Linked DNA regions of Homo sapiens: all the other regions are linked to region 1. Evidence: fine-mapped expression QTL. A gene starts in region 1. Each other region holds a variant in brackets. All regions are shown on one strand. Distances are from middle to middle.

What was found. PIP is the estimated chance that this variant, and not a neighbour inherited with it, causes the effect.
Region 2: its variant is fine-mapped to the expression of ASPH in whole blood (TOPMed, PIP above 0.99).
Region 3: its variant is fine-mapped to the expression of ASPH in whole blood (INTERVAL, PIP above 0.99).
Region 4: its variant is fine-mapped to the expression of ASPH in whole blood (TOPMed, PIP above 0.99).

What each region holds. Positions count from the first base shown.
Region 1 is chr8:61,710,563-61,718,289 of GRCh38, reverse strand. It overlaps ASPH (aspartate beta-hydroxylase), which reads left to right and starts at 3,698. Exons shown (of 25, transcript NM_004318.4): 1 at 3,698-4,021. The coding sequence starts at 3,919. It overlaps MIR4470 (microRNA 4470), which reads right to left and starts at 3,502; the gene lies at 3,431-3,502. RefSeq lists silencers at 3,489-3,858, 3,899-4,328.
Region 2 is chr8:61,783,891-61,791,617 of GRCh38, reverse strand. It overlaps LINC02842 (long intergenic non-protein coding RNA 2842), which reads right to left and starts at 6,571. Exons shown (of 5, transcript NR_187554.1): 1 at 6,462-6,571. The variant T/A (reference allele first, on the strand shown) is at 3,489.
Region 3 is chr8:61,756,450-61,764,176 of GRCh38, reverse strand. No RefSeq gene overlaps it. Among named protein-coding and RNA genes, the nearest start is that of LINC02842, 25 kb to the left of the region's middle. RefSeq lists an enhancer at 3,201-4,400. The variant G/C (reference allele first, on the strand shown) is at 3,806.
Region 4 is chr8:61,638,652-61,646,378 of GRCh38, reverse strand. ASPH (aspartate beta-hydroxylase) reads left to right here. Exons shown (of 25, transcript NM_004318.4): 7 at 1,747-1,779; 8 at 2,378-2,434; 9 at 2,946-2,993; 10 at 3,459-3,491. Among named protein-coding and RNA genes, the nearest start is that of ASPH, 72 kb to the left of the region's middle. The variant G/A (reference allele first, on the strand shown) is at 4,526.

The DNA.
Region 1 (7,727 bases):
AGAAGTAGGGCAAATCGTGTCCTCCAGTTCTCACTTGCAAATCCCACTGAAGGCAGTGGAAGGTTTATGGAAATACCTGAAAGACACATTTGACCTAGTTCAAAAGCTCTATTAAATTAGTATTTTAATAAATTGTCCTAGATAAGTCTTGTCTTTATGGTCCTTTTAACATTATTTCACCCATAGTTTGCTTGAAAATTACAGAAAAGAGGAAAAGCTAACAAGGGACATTTGACTTCTCCTTTAATTTAAAAGATACTAAGATACTTTGTCTTTTTCACAACCATGCTGAGAAAATGTCCTTTGTAAAGAAATATATGAATCCTAAGTAAGCTTTGCGTTTTTTGATGCCCATAATATGGGAAGTACAGACAGATATAAAATGTATAGTTCTGTTACTTAGCTTGAGGGAATTCAGTCCCTGAAATGAAACTGTGTCTAGAACTGATGGCATCTGATTTAAGTTTTATTCGATAATACTGAGCACATAAATGTTATCATAGTTGTTTCCTCAGGATACAAGAAAGCGCTAGGTAGCCTCTTTCTTTCTGTGATTCATATTTACTAAAACCTCTATTTTGGCCTGATATTGCCCAAGATACACAGCAATGTACCTTGTCAGGGGTACCAGATTTAGTTTCTGGAAATGCAGGAGCAAAGCATCACTTAATGGCATTTTGGAGTTAGCTATAAAACAAATTTGATTTCCTTAAAAAGATAGGCTTTGATAAGCACTTACCACTGGGTTTCAGACCTATCTTTGAAGGTAGGACCAAGGAGGCTTCCTGGAGACATCCATTAACCGAAAAGGGAGCCAGGTGAGACTTTCTCCACTCAAAACTATGTCTTATCCAGGAGGAATAATTTGGAGTATAGACTCTGGAGCCAGTCCAACCAAGTTCACATCCCTCCTCTATCACTTACTAGCTTTGTGACTGTCCCAGCCACTCCAGCTGTGGCTGAAAGGCTCCAACGTACAGCTCAGACTGTGGCTTCAGAAGGTGGAAGCTCCAAGCCTTGGCAACTTCCACGTGGTGTTGAGCCTATAGGTGCACAGAAGTCAAGAATTGAGGTTTGGGAACCTCCGCCTAGATTTCAGAAGATGTATGGAAACGCCTGGATGCCCAGGCAAAAGTTTGCTGCAGGGACAGGGCCCTCATGGAGAACCTCTGCTAGGGCAGTGCAGAAGGGAAATGTGGGGTCAGAGCCCCCACACAGAGTCCATACTGGGTCACTGCCTAGTGGAGCTGTGAGAAGACTGCTACCATCCTCTAGACCCCAGAATGGTAGATCCACTGACAGCTTGCACTGTGCACCTGGAAAAGCCGCAGACACTCAATATCAGCCCGTGAAAGCAGCTGGGAGGGAGGCTGTACCCTGCAAAGCCACAGGGATGCAGCTGCCCAAAACCATGGGAACCCACCTCTTGCATCAGAGTGACCTGGATATGAGACCTGGAGTCAAAGGAGATAATTCTGGAGCTTTAAAATTTGACTGCCCCACTCGAATTCAGACTTGCATGGGCCCTGTAACCCCGCTGTTTTGGCCAATTTCTCCCATTTGAAATGGCTGTATTTACCCAATACCTGTACCCTCATTGTATCTAAGAAGTAACTAGCTTACTTTTGATTTTACAGGCTCTTAGGTAGAAGGGACTTGCCTTGTCTCAGATGAGACTTTGGACTGTGGACTTTTGGGTTAATGCTGAAATGAGTTAAGGCTTTGGGGGACTGTTGGGAAAACATGATTGGTTCTGAAATGTGAGGGCATGAAATTTGGAGGGACTGGGGCAGAATGATATAGTTTGGCTGTGATCCCATTCAAATCTCAACATCAAATTGTATCTCTCAGAATTCCCATGTGTTTTGGGAAGAACCCAGAGGGAGGTAATTGAATCATGGGGGCCGGTCTTTCCTGTGCTATTCTCGTGATAGTGAATTAATTCTCATGAAACCTAATGGGTTTATTGGGGGTTTCTGCTTTTACTTCTTCCTCATTTTCTCTTGCCACCTCCATGTAAGAAGTGCCTTTCACCTCCTGCCATGATTCTGAGGCCTCCCCAGCCATGTGGAACTGTAACTCCAATTAAACCCCTTTTTCTTTCCAGTCTGGGATATGTCTTTATCTGCAGTGTGAAAACGGACTAATACAGTGACCCTACTTTGTTTTATCTCTCTGAGCTTCCAGTATCTAATTTCTTTAAAAAATTGATATGACTACAGGGTTTTGTGAGAATTTAAGGGTAAAAATATCTTTGGTGTGGGGGGTGGGGGGTGGCTAGAGCATTGTGTTTTGAAATTTAGCTCTCATTTTTATTTTATATGAAGCACCATCACTCAGATTTATTTCTTAATCCAGTTCTCCACCTCCTTCATTGAGATAATATAATAGAGGGTTGTAAGGGGGCCCTGAATGGGAGAAAGGATATATGGATGCAGAAGGAGATGCCACAAGATAAAAGCTGAGAGAGCTACTTCAATAAAAACTCTGTGAACTCTCCCCTCCCACCGTCTCTTGATAATAGCCTAACACTATTTGACAAAAGGTAAAGAAAGGCATTCTCTTTATTCTGCAACATGACCTTTGGGGGGTTTCTGTGCATCATCAGGGCAGGGTCAAGCAGCATCCAACCATCCACAGGTGAAAAGGCATGGGGCCGGGGGGAGGCGGGAGTGCTTCTGAAGGCGCGGGTGGGTGGGTTTGTGGGGCTGGAAAAGAGGAATGAAACCAGATGCCACAATGCAACTGCTCTCTCTGGTCCCTGAGCCCTCCTGAGACACTCCCAGGGGTTGCTACGAAACATGATCAAGAGCTGTGGGTTCAGCAATTGACAGAAATGTATCAAATCACTAAGCATTTCTTGCTTGCCTGTTACACATTGGGCATGGTGTTAGCAATGGTGACACAAAGATGATAAAGACGTCGCTGATCTCAAGTCCTTGTCTGGTTCAACCACGTGCCAAGACATTTTAATACTCTGTTGGGAATTCTCAGGCAGCACAGGCCCAGGCGTTAGCAAAGCAGCCAGGGATTTCAGACAGAGGGTGCCATCCAGGGTAAGAAAATGAACTTTTTGTGTCACATTTGCATTTTCATTCCTTAACTAAGAGTATCTGAAAATACTGATGGCACAAACGAACTAAATTCCTGCTTCAGCACCAAATGGATGAACTACTACGGTTTAAGCATTGAACTAGTCCTAATATCACCATTCCAGAAATGTCTTAGTATTAATCAGGACAAGAAATAGGGATCTCTTTCGCAAGAAGCGAGACTGCACTCCTTCCTTTCCTTGTATACGGAAAGGGGACAAAATCCACAGTGAAAGGCCTAGAAGCGGCGCACTCCGCCCACGGGCGGCCCACGTGTCCACCTATTCCGCACCGCGCCCTGTCCCATCCCTATGGAGCGGGGTCTGCCAACGCTCGCGAGAGCCCTCTCGGCTTCCACGTTTGCCACGTTCCAAAGGACCGAGACAAACTGGAAAGCCGAAAGAGGCTCGCGCTCACAGGCAGCTGCGTAGCGCCCGAACAGCCCTAAGTGAGCAGGGGCGGGGAGCGCGGCAGGGTACCGCCGCCTCGTAAGGGCCCTTGCGATTGGGTCCCAGGCGCCGTCACTCAGCCTTCCGGGGGCGGGGCGAGGCCGGGAAGGGGCGTGGCCGTCGGGCGGCGAGCCGCGCGCTCTCGCCCCGGGAGGGAGTCACAGGTTCGTACACGCGAGGCCGGGCGCGCGCAGCCGGCAGGCGGGTGAAGTCTTCCCAGGTGCTGCAGGCGGTGCTGAGGCACAGGGTCTGCTGCAGGAGCAGCGGCCCGAACCCGCTCCAGCGGCCCGCCGCCGCCAGCGGTTCCCGCGTCGCGTGTGTACCCCCGCGCACTGAAGGAGGTCCGCCAGCCCTCACCAGCCCCCGCGGACCGTGCAATGGCCCAGCGTAAGAATGCCAAGAGCAGCGGCAACAGCAGCAGCAGCGGCTCCGGCAGCGGTAGCACGAGTGCGGGCAGCAGCAGCCCCGGGGCCCGGAGAGGTCAGAGGCCCTGCGGGGCGGGGATCTGGGGCCTCGCCTCGGGGTAGGGAGCCGGCTGGCGCGGCGGACGCTGCGGGTGCATCTCCCCAGGTCCCACCGCGCGCCGCCTCCATCCCCCGCGACGCTCCTCCTTTAGGCGCGCGGGGCGGAGGCCGCATTCGGCGGGCCTGGCGGGCGGGCGAGGGGCCAGGCGGACCGGGGTCCGAGCCCTCGGGATGCTAGTCTCGGGGAGCCCCTTCCCAGCGGTTCCTTCACCTGCAGGGCGCAGCCGAGACAGAGGTTGCTGAACGACTGTTTCTTGGCTTTCCGTGGAATTGAACATGGGAGTAAGAGAACAATTTATCGTTTGCCTTGCGTGTTTTGGGGAGTTGAAAATGAGCCAAAGTCAGGGAAAGTGAGTTCCTGCCTAACCAGCAGCGTTTCAGAGCAACTCAAAGGAGGTGAAAATGGGGGCGCCGGGGGGCAGGGGGAGGGAAGAAGTTGGGAGTGATTTGAATGCTCTCAGAAATTATTTTAAATATTTTTGCTTGTATGTAGCTTTCTTAATATGCGTTGCAGTTGCCTTTAAAATAGAATGTCATGAAATACTGAACGAGCGTCTGTATTTTTACCACTTTTACTTAAAATAAAAATCGATTGGATATTCACCTTTCTCCTCGTCCGTGTGCATATCCAGCAGAGAGAACAGATTTTTAAATCTGTTTCGTCTCATATTTCAGTGATTCTTGGTTTCTTTTATACTTCCTTTGACTCATATTTGGGATATTGAAACTGCAATACACATGTGTATGGAATGTGAGCTGTAAACTTCACTTGAAGTGATTTAGACTCTTTGTTTTCTGAGATCTTCAGATCATGCATTCATAATATACCAAGAAAATGAATCAGCTATAGTCAAAGAAGTATTTTCTTTATAGCACTTGTCACTATCTGAACTTGTCTTATTACTTTCATGTGTGTTGTCTTTGGCTCATTCTCTCTGTATCCCCAGCTCCTAGAATGTTCCTTTCCCATAATAGGTGCTCAATAAATATTTGAGTAGTGAATGAATGAATGGATTTAAATGGGGAAAGTAGTGCATTAAATCCATTGCACAAATTTACATTCTAAGGACTAATATTTGTATTCTAAAAGTAAAGATGTAGACACAGTTTGAAGTTCAATGCAAGCATATTAATTCACCTTTGACATAAGTGAAAGTTTGTGTTCCTTTTTCACTTGTTCTTAAATGTCACTTACTTAAACCTGCAGAGGGATAGATTAATTGCCTCAGCCGACTGAGGCTACTCTTTTTTAACATCCCTAAATGAGAATGGGTTCTTCTCATTGTGCCTCTAAGGGCACTAAGCAGAGAAAGCTGATGAACAACTTTAATGTTAGTTGTTTTCAAAAGGTTTCTGTAGCTATTTGCCAGAGAAGCATGTCTTCGTTCCATTTCATTTTTGTGTTTATGAGGAGAGGGCTGATTGCATCTGAGGGAAGTCACTTTATATGGCCTCTTATTGGTGAGAACTAATACTGGGAAATGTGTCTCACGTTTCTAGACCTACCCCATAACTATTTGAAGCATTTTAACAGGCAAGAGATAGGTTTAGAAAATGCAGTAACTTAAATTAACTTCTCCTGACTTTCATAGTCAGGCATTTTAGAACAAACTCTGCCCATATTTGAGGATCTACAGCCTTTTAAGCATTTTACACGTTGATTCTCTAATAGTCATGAAACAGACATAGTATGTAAAAGAATATGTAAAAGGGAGGAATGCCCGTGATACGAAAACAAAAGTTGATATTGGAACCCTGCATGTGACGTAATGAGTATTCTTTATCCGCATATCCGCAACCTTTTCTTTTTTTTCTCCAGTAGATACTGAGTTCTTACTGTGTGCCAGATAGAAGGCACTGGGTATGGAAACCATTTCCTTCCATCACCCTAAACAGTTAAAGTACAGTGTCGTGTATAGTAGGCTGTACTCGAAAGATAAAGCCGGCTTTTCTTTTAATGCTGTTTACCTGGTCATTAAAGTACGGACGTTGTGCGAACCATTTCCTTCTACTGGGAAAATCAAAGACTTTTTAGCAGTGTCATACTGTGAGACCCATTTAGTTTCCTGCTCAAATCATACAGATGAGGAAATTAATGCCCAGAGAAGTTGCCGAGTTCATTGAAGGTTGTTTAGTTCATGGAAACTCAACTAATTACTGGAAGAACCGAGACTAAGAACCCAGGTTTTGTTATTCATTTTGCCATGCTTGAATTTTAGGTTCTCTAGTATGTAATTGGAGTTGAACTAGATTATCAAGTTTTCTTCTGGCTGTCTCCATGAGTACTACATTTAATTATTGGAGAAAACTATGCTTTTGTCCTATCACCAATTACATTTCCCTTGACAAAAATTCTATTTGAAACACTATTTGAAATTTTAGTTTGAGAAGAAGTATATGTGTTCAAATAGTACGTTTTTTGATATGTCTTACATTGAGAGTCAGAAAATGACGGCATTGGTCACATTAAACATTATTATTTCTTAAGTTGTTGTGTAAACGTATGGGGAAAAAAGAACCCAGTCATTTGAAACATGCATTTTAGGGAAAAGGTGATTTCTTTTTTTTTTCCTGGCCAAACTTTATCTTGGTGGTTTTTTTGCTGAAAAGTGATGTTTGGAAGCTGGAATTTGGGGAATTTATATCACAGATTTTTAAAGCAAGTGTCTGCTTTTTATTTTCTTCAGCTTAAGCTGAAAAATGATAAAATGGTTTTCTACAGAGTTCAATTTTACTTTTTTTTCAGTTTTACTCTTTATAATATAAAAGAAACATGAATAAATTAGACTTCCTACCTTTATTTTGCATATAGAACTGGACTTGCATGGCCAGTTGGGCCCAGGGGAAGCCTTTTTCAAATTTATTGATTTGAAAATAGTTTGACAAAGAAGGATCATGATGTCCTTTTGGGCTTATTTTGTAGACACTCGTATGTGTAATGTTTTCTGTTTGTTTGTTTAGTTTTTCCCTTTTGAGTATCACCCCTTAACTCCCTGTATCTCCTAGCAGCTTTCCATCTCCCTGTTTATTTTGTCTGGGTGTCCTGCTACTACATTAACTTTTGCCACTAGGTGTCACTGTAGAATATATCCCCCTTTTAGTTTGAAGCTTGGGGTTATGTAACAGCAGGTTTTAATTATTATTTAATCCGTCTGTATATACTCAAAACTATTGATAGATAAGCACTTAAAAACTCTTAGCTACTTTTTAACTCTCTCAAGGTGTCTCAGTAGATTGAGCAGCCTTTTTGTTTAGGCTTAATTAGAATGAAATATATTCCTGTACTGCCTGTAAAACATTAACAGCTTCATTTGATGAGTATTTGTCATTTAGAAACACACTTCTGAGTTTAGTTTAGCTTCCTTTTTCTTTCTACTTTGAGTGTCTCTTAGATTACTAAGTAACTGAGGGATTCAATACACTGCTGATTGCATTGTGGAGCCCTTGAATGAAGAGGCCCTAGCAAAATTTTCTTTCTTTAGCCAAAGACCATCAGAGCCAATTGCTTAATCCTCCATTACTCATTCTAAGATGAAAACATAGGAGGACCATAATTCTTCCACTGCAAGAACCGTCAGCTATTTTGTGTTCAGTTCAACAGCATTTTGTCCATCCTGACCAAATCATATGAAACCAAGCACTAAATAATGTTCTGAGGGAGT
Region 2 (7,727 bases), 73 kb before region 1:
GCAGGAACTACAGGTGCACGCCACCATGCCTGGCTAATTTTTTTTTATTTTTTATAGAGACAGGGGTCTCGCTATGTTGCCCAGTCTGGTCTCAAACTCCCGAGATCAAGCAATCCTCCCATCTCAGCCTCTTAAAGCACCAGGATTACAGGTGTGAGCCACCATGTCCAGCCATCAACTTACATTTTACAAACATTCTGTGTGAGAATGACTTAGTTGCTACCCTACAGTTATAATTTTCTAGCTTAGTTTAATTTAAATTCTGAATATGTTATTGTCAAAATGCAAGGGGTTTTGTTTACACTAGCAAAAGAGCACTGTTCACCAATGACAGGCTTAATGTTAAATTGGGCCCTATTTCTTTGCAGCAGTAAAGTAATCAAACAAGAATGCCATGCCTCTATTAAGCATTTACATTAGGACTGCCTAACTACACCAGGATTTGTTTGGGTAGCACTGGCAGATGTTCTGAAAGACTGTGAGAAAGGCAGCTGGGGCTTCACAGAAAGCAAACGCCCACCTAGGACCATTCTAACATTAGTGCAGGGAACCTGAGTGCTTGTGTGGAGCAAGACATGTGCTGGGTTCTTCTTAATATAATTCCCCACAGTAGATTTTCTGAGCACCTGCAATAGAGGTATTTGTTCTCCATCTGCCTCAGAAAAATATTGAAAGAATTCACAAAGAAAGCCGGGTGTCGTGGCTCACGCAGGTAATCCCAGCATTTTGGGAGGCTGAGGTGGGTGGATCACCTGAGGTCAAGAGTTGGAGACCAGCCTGGCCAACGTGGTAAAACCCTGTCTCTACTAAAAATATAAAAATTAGCCAGGAGTGATGGCCGGCGCCTGTAATCCCAGCTACTCAGGAGGCTGAGGCAGGAGAATCACTTGAACTCAGGAGGTGGAAGTTGCAGGGAGCCGAGATTAGGCCATTGTACTCCAGCCTGGGCGACAAGAGTGAAACTCCATCTCAAAATAAAAAAAAAAAAAATTCACAAAGAAAGTCCAGAAAACATTGAGTTTTTTTGCAATGAAGTGTTATGAAAATAGATTATTTAAATTATCAATGGGTTTTAATCTTATTTAAAAATTAGTAAATCCATTAGATTTTCATTGTGCCAGCTGACAGTGTATTTTCTGACTTTTTTACACAACACAAGGCATAAGATTTGAGAAACTATGAGATTCTGCTTGTTTTAAGCCCTGGTGGTTCATAGTTGAGTGTGAGGCAACCTGGCAGCCATATCAGTGTAACAAAGGACTGAGCAGACCCGGGCTCTGTTTTCTATGTTTCATCCCACACCGGCATGCTTGAAGGGGTAGTTGTGGGCCAGACAAGTGACAGATGGCACATTTGCACCAATCAGATTTGCCAGTGCAGGAGGTTCTCCTCTCACCGCCATACCCAGGAAACAGGCCATGGCTCCATGTCCATATGGGATCGCTCCAGGAGTGCAGGCTTTAGGGCACAATTATTTGGATGAACAGGTTTGGCCTTGACTCTGAGTTTGGGAAATGTCGTGGATAACCCACAATTGGCTTACTGTAGTTCTGAGTCATCACTGGACATTTCCTTTCTCTAGGAGATAGCCCAGGGCATTAAAACTACTTTCCACTATCAGCAGATCCTGGAAATAGCCCTGAGCCTCAGCTCTAGTTCCTCTCAGCTGCAGTCTGAAAGCAGCCTGCTTTTCCAGGACCCCAGAGAGAGACACACTCATCTGTGTCCCCCAAGGGTCTGTGCCCTGCAGACCTCGGTCTCATTTGTGGACCCTGTAGCAGCCCTGTGACTCAGGTCGAGCCCCTCTCAGCCATGGCTGAGGGCCAGCACTGCCTGCCCAGGGACCCACCCAGTGACCCAGAGCAAACCAATCCAGAAACCTGGAGGAAGCCACACCTATCCACATACCAGGTTATAGGACTGCCATCTACAGACTCAGAAGTAGACCCTCATTCAGCACCAGCCCTACTGGCCATGCTTCTGGGGGCAGCCCAGTCCACCCAGAGCCCAGACAGGATCCATGTTTGCTTGAGCCCGGGTAATAGGCTCACCTACCTTATACCTCACTATGCACTCAGTAGAAGCCACATGACCTAGCTCTAACCCTGCTCAACTGTGATCCCAGAGGAAATCTCAGAGTCAGCCTGGGGACCTAATAGAAGAGGGCCTTTATCTACAGAACCATCTATACAGACTGAAAGAGGTATTTGGTACTTGAAATGCATAGACAGCAACACAAACCTACACAGATCATATGATCCAGCAATCCCACTTCTGGGTATGTATCCACAGAAAACGAAATTAGTATGTTGAATTAATATCTGGTTTGATTCCATACCTTGGCTATTGTAAATAATGCTGCACTATTTACAAGAGCCAAGGTATGGAATCAAACTAAATGTTCATGAATTTATAAATGGATGAAGAAACTGTAGAATATTACTGGACCATAAAAAGGAAGAAAATCCTGTCATTTGCAACAACGTGGATGAAACTTGGGGACATTTATGGTAATTGGGATAAAAAAGTCACAGAAAAAAATGCTATATGGTCTCATTTATATGTGGAAATACTATATGATATCACTTATGTGTGGAATCTAAAAAAGTTGAACTCAGAGAAGCAGAGAGTAGAATGGTGGTTGTCAGGGGCTCAGGGATAGGGGAAATGGAGAGATGTTGGTCAAAGGGTACAAAGTTTGTTATAAGATGAATAAGTTCTGGCTGGGCGCGGTGGCTCACGCCTGTAATCCCAGCACTTTGGGAGGCCAAGGCGGGCAGATCACGAGGTCAGAAGATGGAGACCATCCTGGCTAACATGGTGAAACCCAGTCTCTACTAAAAATACAAAAAAATTAGCCGGGCGTGGTGGCACGTGCCTGTGCAGGAGAATTGCTTGAACCCCAGAGATGGAGGTTGCAGTGAGCCGAGCTTGCACCACTGCACTCCAGCCTAGATGACAGAGTGAGACTCTGTCTCAAAAAAAAAAAAAAAAAAAAAAAAAGATGAATAAGTTCTGGAAATCTAATGTACAATCTGGGAACTACAGTAAATAATACTGCCTTGTTTACTTGAAATTTGTAAGAGTAGATTTTAAGTGTCCTCACTGCATGCACGTATACACACACACACACGCATAGAAAAGGGTAACTATAGGTGGTGATGGTTACATTAATTAATGGTTGTGGCTATCATTATACAGGTACATGTATATCAAATCATCACATCGTGTACCTGAATATATATAACTTTTGTCAATTAAATTTTAAAAAACTACTTTCCACTAGAACCAAGAAATCCCAGCACTGACTCCTCCTTTCTTTAAACTCAGATTATTCCTGAAAAAAAAAGAAAAATTAATTTTATGTCTAGAACAATGAAATCATCCCTTATTGGTAGCTTTTGAAAACATCAGAGAATATAATCCTGCTTCTTCCAACCAACTTTACCATGTTGCTAGCTTTCTACTGCCACCCTTCTATCCTGTTA[T/A]ATCCTGTTGTATTTCTCCCCCTTCCTACCCCACCCATAGACTCACTGTTTACCTGATTTTATAGGAAATAAAAAGAAAATTCCTTTAAGATTACCTATAATCTTGGTCACCATAATATCCCCAGAATCTAGCACACTGCCAAGAAAATAACAGGTGCCTAATAAATGCTTACTGAATAAATTTTGAAAGGCCTATGTGACATCAAAAATAAGCATAAAGGACCAGGATAATCTATGTAACATAATGCATACCCCAAAAGAGATAAGCCATGTTAAGAAAAATATTCCCTGTGTTAAAGTGTTACAATGAGGATCCCCAATGAATCAGACCTCCCCATGTCCACACTCTTTCACAATGTGTGGTTGCTCTTCTTCCCATCAAAAGGTAGTCTATTGCTCTGCTGCCTTGAATCTGCCCTGACTCCAAATTTATTTGGCCAACAGAACATAAAATAAGGCATCCTATAAATCACAAAGCCTAGTCCTTCAAAGATTTGGCAGATTCTGCTCTTGCTCTCCTGGAAGCCTGCTACCAGTACATTGTGGAGAAGCTGACTCTAGCCTAGTGGAGGATGGGAGGCCTCATGGGGAGAACAAAGTGCCATAGTCAACAGCCGGTACCAACTGTCAGGCATGTAAGTGAGGCCAGCCTGGCCACCAGCTCCAGTCAAGCCATTCATGATATGCAGAAGAACCACTTAGAGTGCAAACCCACAGAATTATGAGAAAGAGTAAACCACTGTTGCCTTGTCAGAGGGCAGACACCCAGCAATGGAGCACTGAAACACTCTATCGTGTCCAGGTTGCCAGTACCTCTCCTCCCACCACAAATGCCTGAAGCCCAGTGTCCTTGTGAGTAGGATGCGGCTACTGTGTTAGGTTCAGAACATTCATCAGGCTCTCCCAACCAGCCACTGCTCACAATCCACTTGCTCTCATCCATTTTCCTAAAATTCTGTACCTTTTCCTTGAACCTGGATCCTCCCACTCTGTCTGGCTGTCTCAAGCCAACTGTTCCATGATCTACCTGATTTTCATCTGAAATTTCTCCCTATGGACCTCCCATTTATGTCACCCTCCTGGGCTCCAGAAAGTGCAGGCCATGGAGGACTGGCCCTCTTCATACACACCCATCGAAACTTTGAAACTTCCCATTGAACCTGACCAGATCCCTGGGACACACAATGCCCAGGACCCTGGCTCTTCAAGAAGGGGGCTCATATGAATATGTTAACTTGGGATATTTTGAAGGAAGAAAGAAGAAAAATGAGCTGTGGATAATGATAACTCACCTAGTGGAAAAATAATTGTGAAACATGATCTTGAACACAAAGCTATCCCCTCTTTCTATGTTCCCTTGGGGACTTTACTATTATTTGTACTAAATTCTTAACCTTTATATCTGCAAATGCTCAACAGTGATTTTTCAGGAAGCTTTTTACCAATTGATTATGCTGCTATTTATTATTCCAGGCATTTATTATTCTTGACTGTTTACTTGGTTCTGTAGTGATAGTTACAAGCCAAATGCCTTTTGACCTGGGTCTAGAGTTTTCTATGGTGACATTGTGTGCTCATTAGTTTTCTAGGAAAACTCTGGAAAGATAATTGTTTCAAGCTCTTTTTAGTACCAACAGTCATTATCTTGTTGGAATCCCAGCTGAAAATAACAAGAACCCCTTCCAGAGTTACACCACTCACCTGCCCCCTGGCCACTGCTACATAGGGTTGTCCTATTTGAATCTTTCACAGCATAATCACTGCACCTGCAGACTCAGCAGCTCTGCCAGTGGCAGCCCAATGTGGCAGGTGGCAGTGGCAATCCATTTGTTTGCTCTTCCTGGCCACTAGCTCTCTCTCCAGGCCATGGGCTCTTCCCAAATGTTCACTTGCAACCCAAGGTAAAGATTTAGGCTCTCAACCAAGCACTGACCTTTCCTTGAGTCTTACTCCTTGACTGCCACTCTCCTGAAGAGTGATGGAGGCTGTAAGTTTTCCTAGAAAAAAAATGACTCACTCATTGGCAATTATCTTCCTACAGAGATATCGTGCCTCTGTGCCAACAACAAAGGAAAGGGTGTGGCTCAATATTCACCAAATCTAAGTGCTTCTAGGAGAGTGCACATCTCCTTGTAGTTTAAATTTTGACATTATAATATTAAATAAATAACAATCCTTATGAGGACACCTGCAGGGATAAGCCACAGGGATGGTGCCAGTATAAACATATTTCCTTGGCTCTAAATTTTGGTGTTCTCTGTAAAAGTATGTCTGATTGTGCTATAATTAAGGACTAGGTAGGGGAGGAATGGGTGGGAGAAAATGAGAAAGGTGAGTTTCTCTCTCTTTCATAGTCCCAAGATTGGCACAGAGGAAGATGCTGTGATCTCTACCTGTCTGATGCCCATATTTGATCAAATCTGCTGTGAAGAGGAGGCACTGGGGCAAGGCACCAGGGAAAGTGAAGTGTAAGTCCCACCTAAGCAGATACACCTGGAGCATCTATCCCCAAAAAGGGGCTCCCATCCTCCAGGATGTTGACATTTTCTGGGATACTATAGGTGGGGTAAAGCAAAAATTGCATGAGTTTTAGAGTCAGAAAGACTTGGGTCCTCATTCACCTTCTGCTTCTGATTATAGGGCAGTGTTTTCATATTTACAATGTTACCTTGCAATGTGTTATGGGAATGGGAATTTAAAAATGCAAGTAAAGTGATAAAATATGGTAGCTATTATTGCATCTGTAAATCATTTTATGAACTAATCAGTTTGTGTTAAATATAATTCACAAAACTAAAATGCATCCTGTAATGATTTCTCCATGGCTTTTTTAGCTCTCTCAGGATCCTAAGATATTTTTCCAAAACACTTGCTCACCCAGCTTAGTTTATTAAAAAGATAAGTATCTAAAGCAAACTACACCATTATGTTACCCCAGAGCTTACTCTCAATACAAAAAAAAAAAGTTCTTACCTCCCAACCTGTGCAGTTGGTTGTCCACGACTCTACTTTCTTGAGAAAAGTGCTGCCAAAGGGACCCCAGGCCTCTATAGGCAGAGTCTGCTATGATCCAGGGATGCATTAAGGAGCAGACTCTGCTCTATGCTAAAGCTGGACACAAGGATAACTATGACCTCATAATGCTGAAGACCACTCCAGACTCTTCCTAAACTTCTAGATCTGATAACATTACAATAGTATTAACAACCACCACTGTGTTTTGAGCACTAAGTGTCAGGCATTCCAATAAAAGTTTTATGTTTATGAACTTTTGTTCTCTTAAGAGCCCTGTGAGATGTTACTACTCTTCTTTTATAGTTAGATAATTTACAGTTTAGATGAGTTAAACATCCAAGGCCACAGGGCTAGACAGTGTAAAGCCAGGAGTAAAATACAGGCTTTTAAGGCATTTTATTCATATTTTCTAAACTTTTTTTTCAGCAGTTAAAGCCTTTTATCTAAAGAGTACCCAGCTTCATAATAAATAGATTGACAAACCCAGCTGGTGTGGTTTAAGTCGTGTGTGGATGCTAAGAAATCCCCCACAGAACCCTGGGATCTGTAGAACAAAGTGAAAACCCCTCCCTCACCCTGGGATCTGTAAAACAAAGTGAAAATCACTTCCTCACTACGCCATCTCCAATGATGTGCATGGAAGTACTTGGAGGGGTATTAAATGCCACAAACTTCATAATGAAACATCTAAAGTAGCAGAAGTGCTGCAGTGTTGAGAGTCCAGCGGACTGGATGGTTTCCCACTAGCAGTTTAGTCAGAGCCTGCCCCTTCCCCTGCATTGGGTCAGACTATGGTGCCATTTCTAGTGATGACAGAAGGCCCTTTCATCTAGTCTACAAGAGAGGAAAAATGTGGATTATCCACAGAGATGGTTAATCTTATGTGTCCACTTGACTGGGTTAAAGGACACTCAGATGGCTGCCAAAACATTAGTTCTTGTGTCTATGAGGGTGCTTCTGGACAAGATAAGCATTTAGATTGGTGAGCTGAGTAGCACAGATGGCCCTCCCCAGTGTAGGTGGGCATTGTCAAATCTACAGAGGGCCTTATGAGAACAGAAAGGTGGAAGAAAGTTGAATTCTCTCTTTACCTCACTGCTTCAGCTGGGACATTAATATTTTCCTGCCCTCAGCCTTCCTGGTTCTCAGGCCGAAAGATCCAGACCATCATGGACTATCTACACACACACTAGTCTCCCCACAGAGCCGCTCCAGTGGTTTAAC
Region 3 (7,727 bases), 46 kb before region 1:
GCTTTAAGGGAGCAGGTGTTTGTCCCAGAGGGCCAAACACATTGAGTAGAGCCCATGAGAACTACAGCAGACAGTAAGAATGGGTCTTGTACCACTTCTTATCTCTAGCATATGGCCACAGAGCAGTCATCACTGATAAGAGGCCCAAGGAAACCCCCAACAGTGGGCAGAAGAAACTAAATAAAATATTTCTCAGGGATGCAAAGACAAGACAATGGAAATTTCTTACAAGTTTTTGAACAGTATCCCAAGCCAAAGTTTGTCAAAAAATTATCAGTCTCATGAGACTGAACTCGTCAGTCTTGGAGTGGTCTGAAAGACGGACTTCGAGAGCCCGTGTGGTCCCTCTCTCTAGACTTCCTCCTGCAGACTCACAGGAGAAAGGGAGGAGTGTGGACAGCAGGAAACAGGGAGGAAGTGTTGGTATTTAGGCAGGTTTTCACCATGAATAATAATTTTCAAATTTAATTATCTAAAGGAAGGATACTTAAAATGATTCCTCATTCCTAGGAGAAAAAATGAATTTATTTGAAAATCAACTCAAGCAAGAGCAAATAAGAAATCAGGAGATCAGACATAATCAGGGCCCTACCTATCTTACGGTTGGAGAGATTTCTGAGTGGAAGGCTCAGAGGCCCCAAGGTAGCACCCTCTCCTGAGTGAGGAGTCTTGAGCCTCAGCAGCAAGGGGGAATTTAGTGAATCTCAGTGGTAGTTTAAGTATTGTTGAGTACTGACTTCCCAAAATATCACCAGAAAAATCTGCTGCTCAAACAAAGCTAAGTTGGTTAGGCTTGCTGCAGTAAGGGAAAAGACTTCTTTGACAGCTTTAGTAGTGAATCAGAAGGGAGAAGTCAGGGGAGAATATTAATAGCATTTGGAGGGCAACTCTGAGTTGGATGATTTTCTGCAAAGCAAGACTCTAGTTGGGATTGGGAAATGTATGTCATAATATTTTTGAATGGGTAGCTGTAGTGAGGAGAGGGTCCTTAAAGGCTATTGATGAATAAGGAGTTTGAATCGGTTCACTGTCTTGTCTTTCAGGAGCCTTATTTCCAGGAGTAAGTAGCTACGTTGTTTTTGCCTGATCACAGTATTATTTAGCACATGAATGAAAACTTCATTAGTTTTGGTTTTCATAACATACAATGATATAGAGGTCACAAGTATGGGCTTTGGCGGTGTACAGCCGTTTTCAAATCCCAGCTCCTTAGTTTACTAGCTGTGTGCCTGGAGCCACTGAATCACCTATACTTAGTCTCAGTTCTTTCATCTGCCTAATTATGTCATGTATTTGTTGACCTATTTCTGACACTGTTTTCATCATAACATATGTATTGACAGTTTCAAACACTGTTTGCAATATTTTATTTAATCCTTTACAATAGCCCAATGAAAAAATACACTCAAGCCCTTTTGCTAGATGAGGAAACAAAAACAGAGAAACATAGAGGCTAAATAAATTTCCCATCAGGAGACAAGTAAGTGGGCAAGCCATGACTTGGCCCCTGGTAAACTCTGGAGATGTCACAGTGAATTGCTATGCTATATGGCCTCCTTCAGGCTCATTGGGAGGGTTGAATGAGAAATTCAATATGCAGCAGGTCTTGGAACAGTGCCATTTGTTCAACGTGGTTTTGTTATATGACTGGGCCCTGCAATAGGATGGCCTCCTGGCCAGGGTTAGGTCCCTCTTTGCACTCTGAGCTGTCAGAATAGGCTCTGGCCACCCGTGACCCTGAACTGCAATAATTGGGTAATTATCTTCCTTGTTTTTATTAACGTTTCTTAAATGTATGTATAGCTCACATTTATTTTAGCTTTAGTATTAGAAGTGTTTAGGGGGTCTTTATTTTGAAGATTGGTGAGGTCTTCGTGATGTTATAGAAACTTAACTCTTGTTTATATCAATTAGCCTGTGGGAAAATTGGTTTCATTATATGTCATGTTGCTTATAGCCAAAGTTTCCAAGAAACTATCTAGGACATTAAATGAGAACTTAACTGTGTAACACTTAGTCCCTGGCACATGATAAAGGGTCAATGTTAGCTGCTACTATTAAACTATTGAAATGAAAATTCAGTAATAGTGTAAAGTCAAGAAAAGAACAGGATGCAGAGAATGCTTATTTTCTGACTTAGAGATTTCTGAAGGTGCAAAGTGTAAAAGTCATGACTATTCTGTAAAAATAGAAGAAAAACTTTCCCCATAAAGTAAAAACTGGTAGCATCCAATATATTACAGTCCTTCTCATTGTACCAAGTGGTCAGAGATTACAAGGCTTACAGAAACTTTGTATTATGCACCCTCTTGCTGCCTCCACTGGTGAGACAGTCAAGTGTTAGTCTTCCAAGTTGAAATGGAAAATAGATCGTCTCCATGGAATATATCAGTATTTTCTCTTCATGTTAAGTCTTAGTTCCAAACCACCTCCCCGGACAGTCGGAAATCCCACTGGCTGGAGGAATAAATAAATTCCTTATCTTGTCAAGGAAGCTCCTCCCAAGCTACAAAAGTTGCAGACAGCAAAGGGATCAAGTGACCCCAGAGATGAAATCTGTGACTCTCTGGTGGAGCAACATGATAGTAATAAACAAAGGTTGAGTGCCTGCTGTATAAAGCAACCTCTGGAGTGCCTGATATCTACTAACTCTTTTAGCACCCACTCGACCCTGTGAGATGCGTATTACTTTATTGTATCTACCACTGTAAAAAAGAATGAACCAAGCTACAGCAATATTATGTTGCTTGCCCTGAGTCACACAGCTGAGTAAGTCACAGGAGTTTGTGCTCATAATGACTTTGCTATGCTGATGTTTGAACCTGGAACCATTCAGCAACCCTCCAGCTAATATGGCTCCATGCTCTACTTCTGGAAAAGCTGAGTTCCTGCAGCCTTGTCCTACATCACCCAAAAGAGCTGGAAAAGAATGCAGTGAGTTCCATTCTATTTGTTCCGAGAATAGGAAAGCCACATTGAAGCAATATCTTAAAGAGAAATCTATAGTTAGGAGTGATGAAGATTTGAAACAGATGTCAGCAGAAAGAAAAAGGGAGAGGCACCATGATAATTATACTCAGTGATGCTTTTTAAATGACATATATTCAGTTAAATATAGGGAGGTTTGCTGCTAGCCATATGAACAAAGCACAAGAGAATTCCTGGATCAAGGCAGACTTAAAGAGACATTGAAAAAAAAACAAAATTCAAAATTTTGACCTAGTGCAGGAAGAAGTGCAAGTACAGGGGAAGTGGAGGGAAGGAGTGGGGAGGCTGGCACAGAGATGGCACGGGCAGATACGAGCAGATTGACTCGCCAGGACTGTCATTGGGCCACCGCTCTTAGCAGGAATTTCACCATTGAATGACCTAATTATTGTCTTGGGAAAAACACAAGAGCTCCTGTCCATAACAGGATAACAGATGTATTTCAGTGGAGCACAGAATAGGCCGGATGGTGACTAGCAAGAATAAAAGCCCAAGTGGACTGAAGAATCCATCCAAGATATGGTCAGGACGGGCTTGTGGAAAACTTGTGCAATAATGAGAAGAAATGTTATTTGTCACTACCTTTTTTAGGCAGCTGTGTGGATAAACCTACTTTGGGGTAGGAGCTGAGCCTCAGGCCTGTGACCGCTAGAAGCCAGACTTGAAGCCAGGAAAGAGGCCGCTCTTCCCAGGAGTTGGGAGAATTTGACTTTGGTGTAGAATCCAAAAGGCGGGAGAGAGGGTTCCAGGGAGGAGCTGGGGGTGGAGGCTAAAAAAGGAGCCCTGGTTGCCAAAGCCAGGAGGTGACTTTACAGGA[G/C]AGCAGCAGTGACTAAGCCAGGAAGTGACTTTGCGGGAGAGCAGCAGTGACTAATTCAGGAGGTGACTTTGCGGAAGAGCAGCAGTGACTAAGCCAGGAGGTGACTTTGCGGGAAAGCTGCAGTGATTGTGAAGTTGTTCACATACAGGGGGTCATGGGACACCCTCTACGATCTCCCGTGGGAAATCCTCAGTAAGCACTCTCACTCTAGCAATAAGCACTCTCACTCTAGAAAGCCCTTTTGGTGCTTCCAGTCACATTGCCTGGCCCACGCTCGGTGAGAGCTCACATGCGCTTCTGGTCCTGGCCTTCTCAGACGCCACAGTAGCTGCCCACCCTGCAAAAGACCTGGAAGGGGAGGGGAGCCTGTGCCACAGCAGCCAGAGGATGAATGTCCTGTCATGAACAATTCCTGGGGGCACTATGTACATTTTGTAGAAGTCCTGCCAGAATGGAACCTTGCTGTCTACAGCAGCGACCTTGATAACACATCATTTGATTTTTCCTCCTTTTGTGACTCATGCTTCTGCTACCTCACCCTGGCTTCCTGAGATCACCTCCCAGATGAACTCCCTGCACTGAATTCTGGTCTCAGTTTGCTTTGGGGAGAACTCAAAACTAAGACATTCACCACTGTGTTTGTGTGAGCCAAATCTTCACATCATGAGCAGGCGCTATGTCTGCGTTCAGCCAGACAAACAGCAAACCAGCAACTGCCCACATGAATACAGTCCATGGACAAGAGGAGAGTGATAGCTGAGCGACTTTGGGACTTGCTGTCAAAGATACCTGTCTCCCTCTCTTTCATTCTCTTTACCTTTCCATCAGACTATGTGGCTGCCTCATTCCCCCGTGTCCTGCAAGCAAGGATATTAACTATACAAACAGTCCAGCTTAAAACAAAATGGGCAGAATATTTGAATAGACACTTCACAAAGGAAGACAAACAAATTACCAATAAGTGTGTTAACAATTCTTAACATCGTTAGTCATCAGGGAAGTGGAAATTAATACCACAAGGAGAAATCACTACACACTAAAGTGGCTAAAATGAAAAAGAGTAATGACATCAAATTCTAATCTGAGTATAGAGCAACTGTTGATGGAAATATAAGATGGTACAGCCACTTTGGATATAATAAAATGATGCAACCACTTTGGAAAAGTTTGGCAGCTTTATGTAAAACTAAGCAAATACCTTTGGCCCAGCAATTCCACTCAAGCAATCCTTCCCTAAAGAAATAAAAATATATATCCGCCAAAAGATTTGTACAAGAATGCTTCTAGCAGCTTTATTTATAATATAGGATTCAAATCCAGGTCTTTCTGGCTCCAAAGTTTGTTCTGTTAAGTATCATGATATATTGGTTTAAATAAATGGGGTCATAATCTTTGGAAAACAGTTTAGAAGTTTTACATAAAAATCAATAAAGGCCGGGCACAGTGGCTCATGCGTGTAATCCCAACGCTTTGGGAGGCTGAGGCAGGTGGATTGCTTGAGTCCAGGAGTTCAAGACTAGCCTGGGGTTTATGTGAGACCCTGTCTCTATGAAAAAAAACTTAGCCAGGGATAGTGGTGTGTGCCTGTGGTCCCAGCTACTCAGGAGGCTGAGGCAGGAGGATTGCTTGAGCCCAGGAGGTCAAGGCTGCAGTGAGCCATTATAGTGCCACTGCATTCCAGCCTGAGTGACAGAGCAAAACCCAGTCTCTTAAAAAAATTATTAAAAGTAAATAAACAGAAACAAAACAGACAAAAACTCAATAAACACTTTTGGCCTAGCAATTCCACTCAATAAGACTTCCCCAAAAGAAACGAAAACATATAACCCAAAAAATTCCTGGAGGCACTCTGTATGTTTTACAGAAGTCCTGCCATAATGGAACCTTGCTGTCTACAGCAGCAACCTTGATAACACATCATTTGATGGGAGACTGAGGCAGGTGGATTGCTTGAGTCCAGGAGTTCAAGACTAGCCTGGGATTTATGTGAGACCCTGTCTCTACGAAAAAAATAAAAATAAATAATATTACAAAATAATATTCATTGCAGCTTTATTTATAATAGAAAAAAAAGAAAGCAGTCCAGATATATACAAAGTAAGAGAATAGGTGAACAAACTCTAGCATATTTATATAAACTAATTATACTCAGCAATAAGAAGGAACAGTTACTCTCATATACAACATGGGCAAAATATGAAAACATGCTGAGTAAAAGGAGCCTTATAAAAAGAGAGCATACTGGATTTCACTTACATGAAGGTTCTAGGACAAAATAAACTGATCTATATACCTGAGAAAATGAAAACAAATGGTTGCCTTGTTGAGAGTGGGTAAGGACAATGGTTAACTAGGAAAGGATAAGGGAGAACTCTCTGGTGTGAAGAAAATTTCTGTATCTTGGGGTTTTGAGTTACATAGCTTTCTGAGTTTGTCAAACCTCATAGAATGGTACATTTAAAATTTGTGCATTTTATTCTCTGAATTTTACCTCAAAGAGAACAAAAAGAACTGTAAACAAATATTGAATTCTAATAAATGATACATTAACTAGATTACATATATTGATGATTAAGTATTTAGTAGGAAATATACTAATGTCTACCATAAAATGCATTAAGAGTGGATTAATGTGTGGCTAGAGAGGTGATGAATTAAAGGTAAAATGTGAATTATACAGTCTACAAGTTGGTGTATGGGCGCTCACTATCCTTTCAATTTTTTTTTTTTTTTTTTTGAGATGGTCTTTCTCTATTGCCCAGGCTGGAATGAAGTGTCACAATCATTGCTCACTGCAACCTCCAACTCCCTGGCTCAAGCCATTGTCCCACCTCAGCCTCCTGAGTAGCTGGGACCACAGGCACATGCCACTATGCCCAGCTAATTTTTGTATTTTTTGTAGAGACTGGGTTTCACCATATTGCCCAGGCTGGTCTCAAACTCCTGTACTGAAGCAATCCTCCCACCTCGGCCTCCCAAAGTGCTAGGATTACAGGCATGAGCCACCACAACCAGGTTCTTTCAGTTTTTTGATAGGCTTGAAATTTTTCATAATACAATGTTCAAAAACTCAGGAATGACAACAAAGAAAAAAAGAATGCTTGCTGTTATTGAGAAATTACTGTGTCATGCTCTCCGTTAACATCATAATATCTTGTTTTTAATCCTCTCAACATCCTGTGGGGTAGCTATTACTATCCCCATTGCCCTCAGAAGAAAACTTATGCCCAAAGAGGTGGAATTAACTTTTCCAGGATCCAATGGCAGAAAATAAAGTGATGCAACCACTTTGGAAAAGTTTGGCAGCATTACATAAAACTAGGCAAATACTTACTGACCAACAATTCCACTCAAGAAATCCTTCCCTAAAGAAATGAAAACATATATCCACCAAAAGATTTGTACAAGAGCACTTGTAGCAGCTTTATTTATAATATAGAATTCAAATCCAGGTCATTCTGACTCTAAAGTTTGTGCTGTTAACTATAGTGATATACTGGTTTAAATAAATGGGGACACAATCTCGACTCCCAAGCATCTCTCCTTTAGGTGGCCAGTCAGGTCTGTATTCATAAAAGAATGAGTTTATCTCTGCTTTGCCTGCCTCTGAATGTTTGTCTTAATCATGGCTCTCAGAGGTGCTAGGACACAAGGCTAAGGATAAAGAATAGGAGGCAAGGAGATGCGATGCCATCCACCAGCAAGCGGCGCCATGCAGCAGGGCAGCTGGGAAAGGCCAAGGAAGCAGAGGCAGCTGGGAAAGGCTGGCAGCAGGGCCCTGGAAGCCAAGCCAGAAAGGCCGTGAGTCCACACAGGGCAGCCAGCCAAAAGCTGCAGGACTGAGCCCAGAAGCAACTGCTCAAGGAAGATATTAGGCTCAGGCCAATCTGAAGCTTAGTAAGGCAAGAGGTCAGGACAGAAA
Region 4 (7,727 bases), 72 kb after region 1:
AGTGAGCAAAACACAATTCTTAGCTTCTGTACCAGGCATTGGCAAACTTTTTTTTGTAAATAGCCAGAGAGTAAATATTTCAGGTTTTCTGGATCGTACAGACTCTGTTCAGCTACTCAACTCTGCCATCACAGCGTAAAAGCAGCCTTTGATAGTTCCTAAGTGGGTCAGTGTAGCTGTGTTTTTATACAACTTATTTGTAAAATCCTACCCAACATGGCTGGTAAGTGCAGCGGCTTGAACACAGCTCACTCCAGCCTTGACCTCCCATGCTCAAGCAGTCCTCTCACCTCAGCCTCTCAAGTAGCTGGAACCACAGGCATATGCTACCATGCCCTGCCAATTTTTAAATTTTTTATAGTGGCAAGGTCTCCTTATGTTGCCCAAGCTGGTCTCAAACTCCTGGCCTCAAGCAATTCTCCTGCCTCAGCTTTCCAAAGTGTTGGGATTGCAGGCATGAGCCATTGTGTGTCCAGTTAGCAAACACTTTTTAAAAGCATAAAAATGAAAAGTAGTTTATCTACTTTGCACAATACTAAATATTTTGGAAAATTACTTTAGCAGCAGGTAGCTCCTACTTTATGAGTACATGTATTTCCAAAAACTTATATCCATGCCTATTGTTTAGAACAGGAAATGCACTTTCCCATAAAAATATGGGATGGTTTGGTTTTCAAAAGAATTGTATATAATGCATAATTTTCTGTGAAAAATACAAGCACACAATCCTTTTGAACATCTATATGATTTATTTTTGCTGCATTACACATTGAAAATAAGCACTTATAGACTACCTTCAGAACTTTATGCCTTTAGTAATCATTTATGTCATGATTTCTTTGGGACAAGGTTTCCAGTTTCTGAGTAGGGATACTGATAAAATGATTTCCACATTTCCTGTTGCTTCTTCTCTCCAGTCTTTGGCCTAAATGGCTCAGTAAGATTGACAGTTGCTCAGAATTTTTCTATCTACATGCTGCTTATACAACAAATTTCAGTTAAGATGCTGAAATAAACAGAAGCATGAGGAATTTGATATTCTTAAAGTTAGGAGTCACAGATTGGGAGTAGGAAGAAACACTTTTAAGAAGTTCACAAATTGCAGAAACCTTACTTTCTGATCTCATCTTTAATTAGGACATAGATGCAGTTTGAACTTAAAAGTTGGTTGTTAAAAGTCTTCAGAAAATAAAAATATTTATTCTTTATATATGCATTAAATAAAATTAGCAAGGTCATAAGTGTGGTGACGGACAGATAGCTCTTCTGCTATCTGGGGTGTATGGGTTAAGTGTTCAACACATTTACCCTTCAGCTCCCTAAGGGTATAAAGCCTCTTCAGCTGTTTTTCTCTGTTCCCATCCATAGTTGCTGTACTTTCGCTCTAGAAAATGGTAGGACAGGTCGAGGAGATAGCACATTCTAGTGGGTTGTGAAGTGGATTAGAAATGAACGGCTTTCCTGGTCTGGCCTGTGTCACTCTAAGTTGTCCTCTCTCTTTAGTCCAGGGGGTGGTGGTTGTCAGCCTTGTGGGGATGAGTGGACTGAGAAGGAGAATGTGTGAGACATCCCACAGTGTACTTCTAGTGAAATATAAAAGTGTTAAGCAGACTTTTAATTGATAGTCCCATTTTTTAATTTTTTAAATAAAATTAATGATAAGCATAGATTCAGAGTACATATACGGGATATATACATACCATTTTGTAAAAGCAGTAAATATCAATCTAATTTTTTTTTTTCCAGAAACCGAGCATAGTTACCACGTGGAAGAGACAGGTGAGATTTTAATTTAATTCTGTTCTTAATTAGAGTGAGTCTTCCTTTAAAAGGGCATCATAAAATACATAATATCTATTATTAATGATATATTTAAATTAATATATGCAAGATATGCAATTAATAATTTTATTACGTCTTATATTTATGGTATTTCTTTGTGAATATACTTTTTTGTGTTTTGATGCCTAGTTCCTGAGGATAAATTTTCAGTAGGATTACTAGTTCAAAAGATACAATTGAATTGCATGTTTTGTACCTTTCAATTACAGAGTCAACGAAAGGTCTAAATCATGTTTTGTCACATGCCAGCGCCCTTAAAGGGCATGGCCACAGGAGGTGGGCGCATCATCTGTCAGCACTTTACTGTTTTGCGGTTTGAGTGTAAACCAGTTGATGACAGGCCCCCCTTACTCATCTTTGCATTTGGCATTTAACACACTTAATACCTATTTGTTTCAGGAGTGAACATGTTTGAATATCATTATGACTTGATTTTGCATTTCAATCATAACTAGAAATTGTGTCTTTCTGGTTTCGAATATTACATGTATTCCTTATTTGAGACGTAATTTCCTAATTATTCCATAATTTATAGTTTCACAAGACTGTAATCAGGATATGGAAGAGATGATGTCTGAGCAGGAAAATCCAGGTTTGTAAATGTTAAAATTATTGATATGTGTTTTCTGATTGAGGCAGTGGCCAAGGCCGTTTTATTCCAGGGTTAACAATTGTGATTCAACACAGAGATCCCTGTATGGTATTTATAATCACTTTTGATTGGTCAGATGTTTATAGAAATGTCTGAATATAGTTTAATACTACATAGAGGGATGAGAGAAAAAGGAGACGTATTTTTCAAACCACTGTTGAGACTTTGGTCTTTGTAGGTAAGGTGCTGGAAAGAATATTTGAAAATTGAAGGGGCAGTATGATGTACTATAAAGTCATTCTGGGTACAAATCCCATTTCTACTCTTTCCTATCTTTTTGACTTAGGCATCAAATTGTGGAACGTTATTCAGCTTAAATTTTATTAAATGATAATGAAAACATCTATCTGGCAAAGTTGTGAAGATAATTAATTTATGAATCTCCTAGAATGCTGTCTGGCAATGTGTTTGGTTTTTTCCTGTTTGGCAAAGGTGTGTTTTTGTTTTTTAGATTCCAGTGAACCAGTAGTAGAAGATGAAAGATTGCACCATGATACAGGTATTAGATGAGCATTTTCATTAGATTTAAAATATTACCTTAGATTTTTCAATCACATGCTGTGTTTACATGGTGATTTTTCTTTTAAAGGCATCAAAGAAGTAATTTCGACATCTAATGCATGAGATTTTGTTTTATAACAAAGTTAGACTGTTATAAGAATATCAGGCTTTCATATTTCACCTCATCAACTAACCATTCCATAACAAAACAGGATGTCAAATTTTAATGCTGTTTTTGTGTATCAAATTCCTCTGTGCCAATTTGAGAAATTTTAATGAAAATAATTTACCTGCCTTTTAATTGCTTTTGGGCAGAGGCATTTATTATTGACTGAGCAGACATTAATATTTGAAGGAGTAGAGTTCTGTGTTTACGATTAAGTAGTATTTTGTTTTAACTGAACAATTGTATAGAATGACTCAGTTAATACTTATTTTGCTTTTATTCTCTTTTTTTTTTCAGATGATGTAACATACCAAGTCTATGAGGAACAAGGTTTGCAAATGCTTTCTTTTTTTTTTTTTTCTTTTTTTTTTTGAGATGGAGTTTCGCTCTTGTTGCCCAGGCTGCAGTGCAGTGGCACAATCTTGGCCCACTACAACCTCCGCCTCCTGGGTACAAGCGATTCTCTTGCCTCAGCCTCCTGAGTAGCTGGGATTACAGGCATGTGCCACCACGCTTAGCTAATTTTGTATTTTTAGTATTTTAGGGTTTATCTCAAACTCCCGATCTCAGGTGATCCTCCCGCCTTGGCCTCCCAAAGTGCTAGGACTACAGGCATGAGCCACTGCGCCCGGCCTGCAAATGCTTTCTAACCTTAAGCCACCTTCTTGTTTTAAAATATACCTATAGTTTGACTACAAGATGTGGAACATTATGCTTTAAACTATAAACTTTGCAACTTAAAACATCCAGATGAACGGTAGCGTTCAAAGAATTCACTTGGGGAGACTGTTTACCCATTCCACGGCTTCTGCCATTGCCTAAATAATTTCTTAAACTCTTTACAAGTTGCCTTAGGAGGCAGTTACAGTCATTCAAGAAAACCAATCTCAGTACTTTATAGTTGTGTCTCTTTTGACTAAAATATGCATGAACAACTACTTTAGCCGGAGTTAAATTGCTCTAGCTGCTTCTACAGGTTAATCCCACTCTCAAAGATGACTGATTTGTCACCTTGGGGAAGGTTAAGAAGCACTGTGTTCCAGGCTTAAAGGCAGTATGGAGAAAACAGTTCTGGCAAATTTGTGGCATCAGCAGCATCTGATTCAGTTTAGGCCTGTACCTCCCTCCTCTTGTGTCCAAGCATTGCATAGACTATTGTGTTGAACTCCATGAAGTAGATTTTATTTTCCCTGCTTCCCAGAGGACAGAAATAAGGTTCTGACATTATAAATAAGCTGCCCAAGAATGTATGGCTAAGAAGTAATAGAACCAATAATATATCCTTTTTATTCCATTATCCTCAAAGATGATTATGTAGAAAGAGAGAAGTCAGTTGGGTATAACTTTATGTGTAAAGCAAGAAC[G/A]ATGAAGAAATACATCGTAATTGAGTTGGTGGATATGGAGGACTTTCTATGTTCTAGATGGTTTTAGGGCCTGGAATTCAATTATGAGTAACATAGGGTCCCTCCTTTCAAGGAGTTTACAGTGTCATGATAGATAGTGAATCACAATTGAAGAAAATTAGGAGTGTTTATAAATATGAATCATATTTATATGATGATTTAAGATTTGAGACCCTACCAAGTTCATCATCTATAGTGGCTATTTCTAATGGGATATGAATGACACCATGGGAAAAATCCTAGGTTGTGTCTTTAAGGTACTGATAATTTTTATGAAAAGTTAAAGAATTTGGACCTGATGTGTTCACAGGAAGATTTGGGGCCGAGGGAAGGTTGGGGAATAATTTGGTCTTGAGATTGCACTTAGATTTTCTTTCCAATCTTGAATTTGAAGGAGAAAATAGGAATTTATAAATACAAGTTGCATGTAATGATGGGATTTGAGATATTTTCCTCATTTCTACTGATCATTATAATGTTTTTAAAAATATAAAGAACATGTTTGGAATGCAATTTGAAGACTAAATCTAGAGGAATTTAAATTCAAACTCATAAGAAGTATAAAATTAGATACCATGCGAAAAGAATGTTATATGTTTTCATAGGGCAGAGTATCATAATAAATGTAATTTAAAATGTTAGCAAAAGGCAGTAAATATAACCTAAGAGATTGACATGATTTGGTAAGCTACTTTGGATTTCTTTGTTATATAGAACATAAACTGTTTCAAACAAATAGATCTAATTGAACAGTGTATTATTCACTATATGCTAAAACAATACCTTTGTGAAAATTCAGGAATCAGAGCAGAGAAACCAAGTAACTGACATGTAAGTGAAGCTGTAAGTAGGGTGAAAACAAAACCACATTTCAATGGGAGAATAGAATATATTCTGTATGAAACTTGCAAACCCCAGAACATACACTTCGATAGAACTATAGTAGGAACCAGCTTCTACATCAAAGATAACCTAGAAATCATCATGCCTACATTGGACAAACCTGGGAAGTGACAGTATGGCCTTACCATGTAATTGACTTATTTATTCATACACTGTTTAGTGTCTTCGGTCTGAAACACAGGACACTGGAGCAGTTCTAGTGAAGAACACCCATGGTTCCTGTTCTCATGGATCTTATATTTTAGTAGGGTAGTAGAAATTAAACAAGCAATTTCACTGTAGTTTTCATTTCCAGTTGTGATAAGTGCTAGGAAGAACAAGTACAGTGGTAACAAGAATATGTAATCAAGAGACCTTACCTAGTTTGTGGATGAGGCAGGGCCTTCCTGAAGTTTGAGCTGAAGGTGAGAACAATTGACAAGGCAAGGAGAAAGGTGACTGGAGAGTCGTATGAGGTCTCTGACGTGAACTTGCAAGAGTAAGGCTGAGGTGGTGAAATGGGCTGGGTTCAGAGGATGCCTGTGAGCAAGATCAAGGACGTTCATCTTCACCTTTGAGCACTGCCAAGTCAGATCTGCATTTTGAAAAGATTGATCGGTCTGGCATGCAACAAACAGACTGGAGAGACAAGAGTCAATACAGGGAGAACAGTTAAGTTAGCTGTAATCATCCAAATTGGGTCTTTCCGTGCATCACATCTCTCTCTGTCTGAAGGAACCAAAGGAGATGAGTTTCAAGAAAGGGATGTTCAGTGGTGCCCTGCGCTACTGAGAACCATGTGAGATGAGTGCTGAAAACCTGCCCTGATCTGGCGCTGCAGTGGCCTCAACGGGTGACTTTAGCTGGAACTGTTTCAGTGGACGGATAGGACAGATATGATAGTTTAAACCAAGGGTGGTGGCAATGATGGAGGAGGGAAGTGGGCAAAGTTGAGAAATGCTTAGAAGGTAAAATTGGCAGGTCTTCATGCATGGGTGTAGCTGGGGGGAGACAACAAGGTGCCAAGAGCCACATACACTCTTCTGCTTCTGCAGCCTGGTGACAGGGGGTGCTCTTTTCCTAACGTGGGAGAGACTGGAGTCAAGCACGGGGCAGGGGCTCATGAGTCCAGTTCTTTACATGATGATAGTGAGATTTCTTTGAGGCATCTGAGAGGAGAGATCAAATGAGCCATTTGGTGGTGTTTGACTCTCAGAAGAGAAGTCTACTTCGTGATTGTGAGTGTGGGAACCATCAGAGTAGTTACGTGGTCATCAGGACCAAGCTCTGAGATCCCTTAAGGAGAGCAGATTGAGGGAGACATGAGGTGGTTCTATGGCTGGACTTTGAAGAAAGCCAGCATTTAAGGACGGCTAAGAAAAAGATGAAGTGAAAAAGAAGATTGAGTGGGAGAAACGAAAAACCAAAGGGGAGAGTATGGTCACCCTGAAGTCCAGGGGCAACAGTGTTTGGAGAAGAATGGTGTTGCTAAAAATATAGCGAGGGCTGGCGAGTGTCCATCATATCAAATGAGGCACTGGAGGGGGTCTCAGCAGGAGCCTTTTCAGGGATGGGGTCAGGGTCTGAAGACAGGCGGGAGTGAGTTGAGGGGAGAGGAAGAGATGAGCCATGAGATGTAAATGACTGAAGAAATTAGATTGTTCAATGGAAGAAAGAGAGGGTGACGAGAAGCAAGCTTAAGAAAGAGTGGTATTGCATTTTTAAGTTCTTAGAAGCTTGAGCATGTTTAAATGCTGACACTGCTCAGGGCAACAGAGTGAGCACACATTCACTGCTCCTTCATCTTTCAAATGCCCCAAAAGGACAAAACGACCTATTAAACATTGTTCCCTGCTGTACCCCAATACTGAGAGTGTCTGAAAGATAGTAGGTGCTCAATAATTTTTCTTTATTAAATGAATAAGAAAGAATAAACTTACAACCATGCTGGGAAAAAGAAGGATGTTTTCTTGTAGTGTGCCAGAAAATTGGAGGTATTTTGGAAGATCAGGTTGACTGAGGAAGCTTTGAGCCACTGGGCCCTGGAGAGGCCTGTGTGGAGATGAGACTTCCTTGCAGCAGAGCAGAGAAGAAGCACTGAGCCTCATGCCAGCAAATGAGGGAGGCAAGGGCAGCACGCCCTAATTAGGGTGGGGAACGCTTCATTCTCAGGGGCTGGCGGCAGAGGTGTTTGGCCCCAGGTTAGAGGTCTGAGAATTGTTTCCTAAACAAAGCAGGGAATCTGCCCATGAACACCAGGATCCAGTTGATTCCCAGGGTA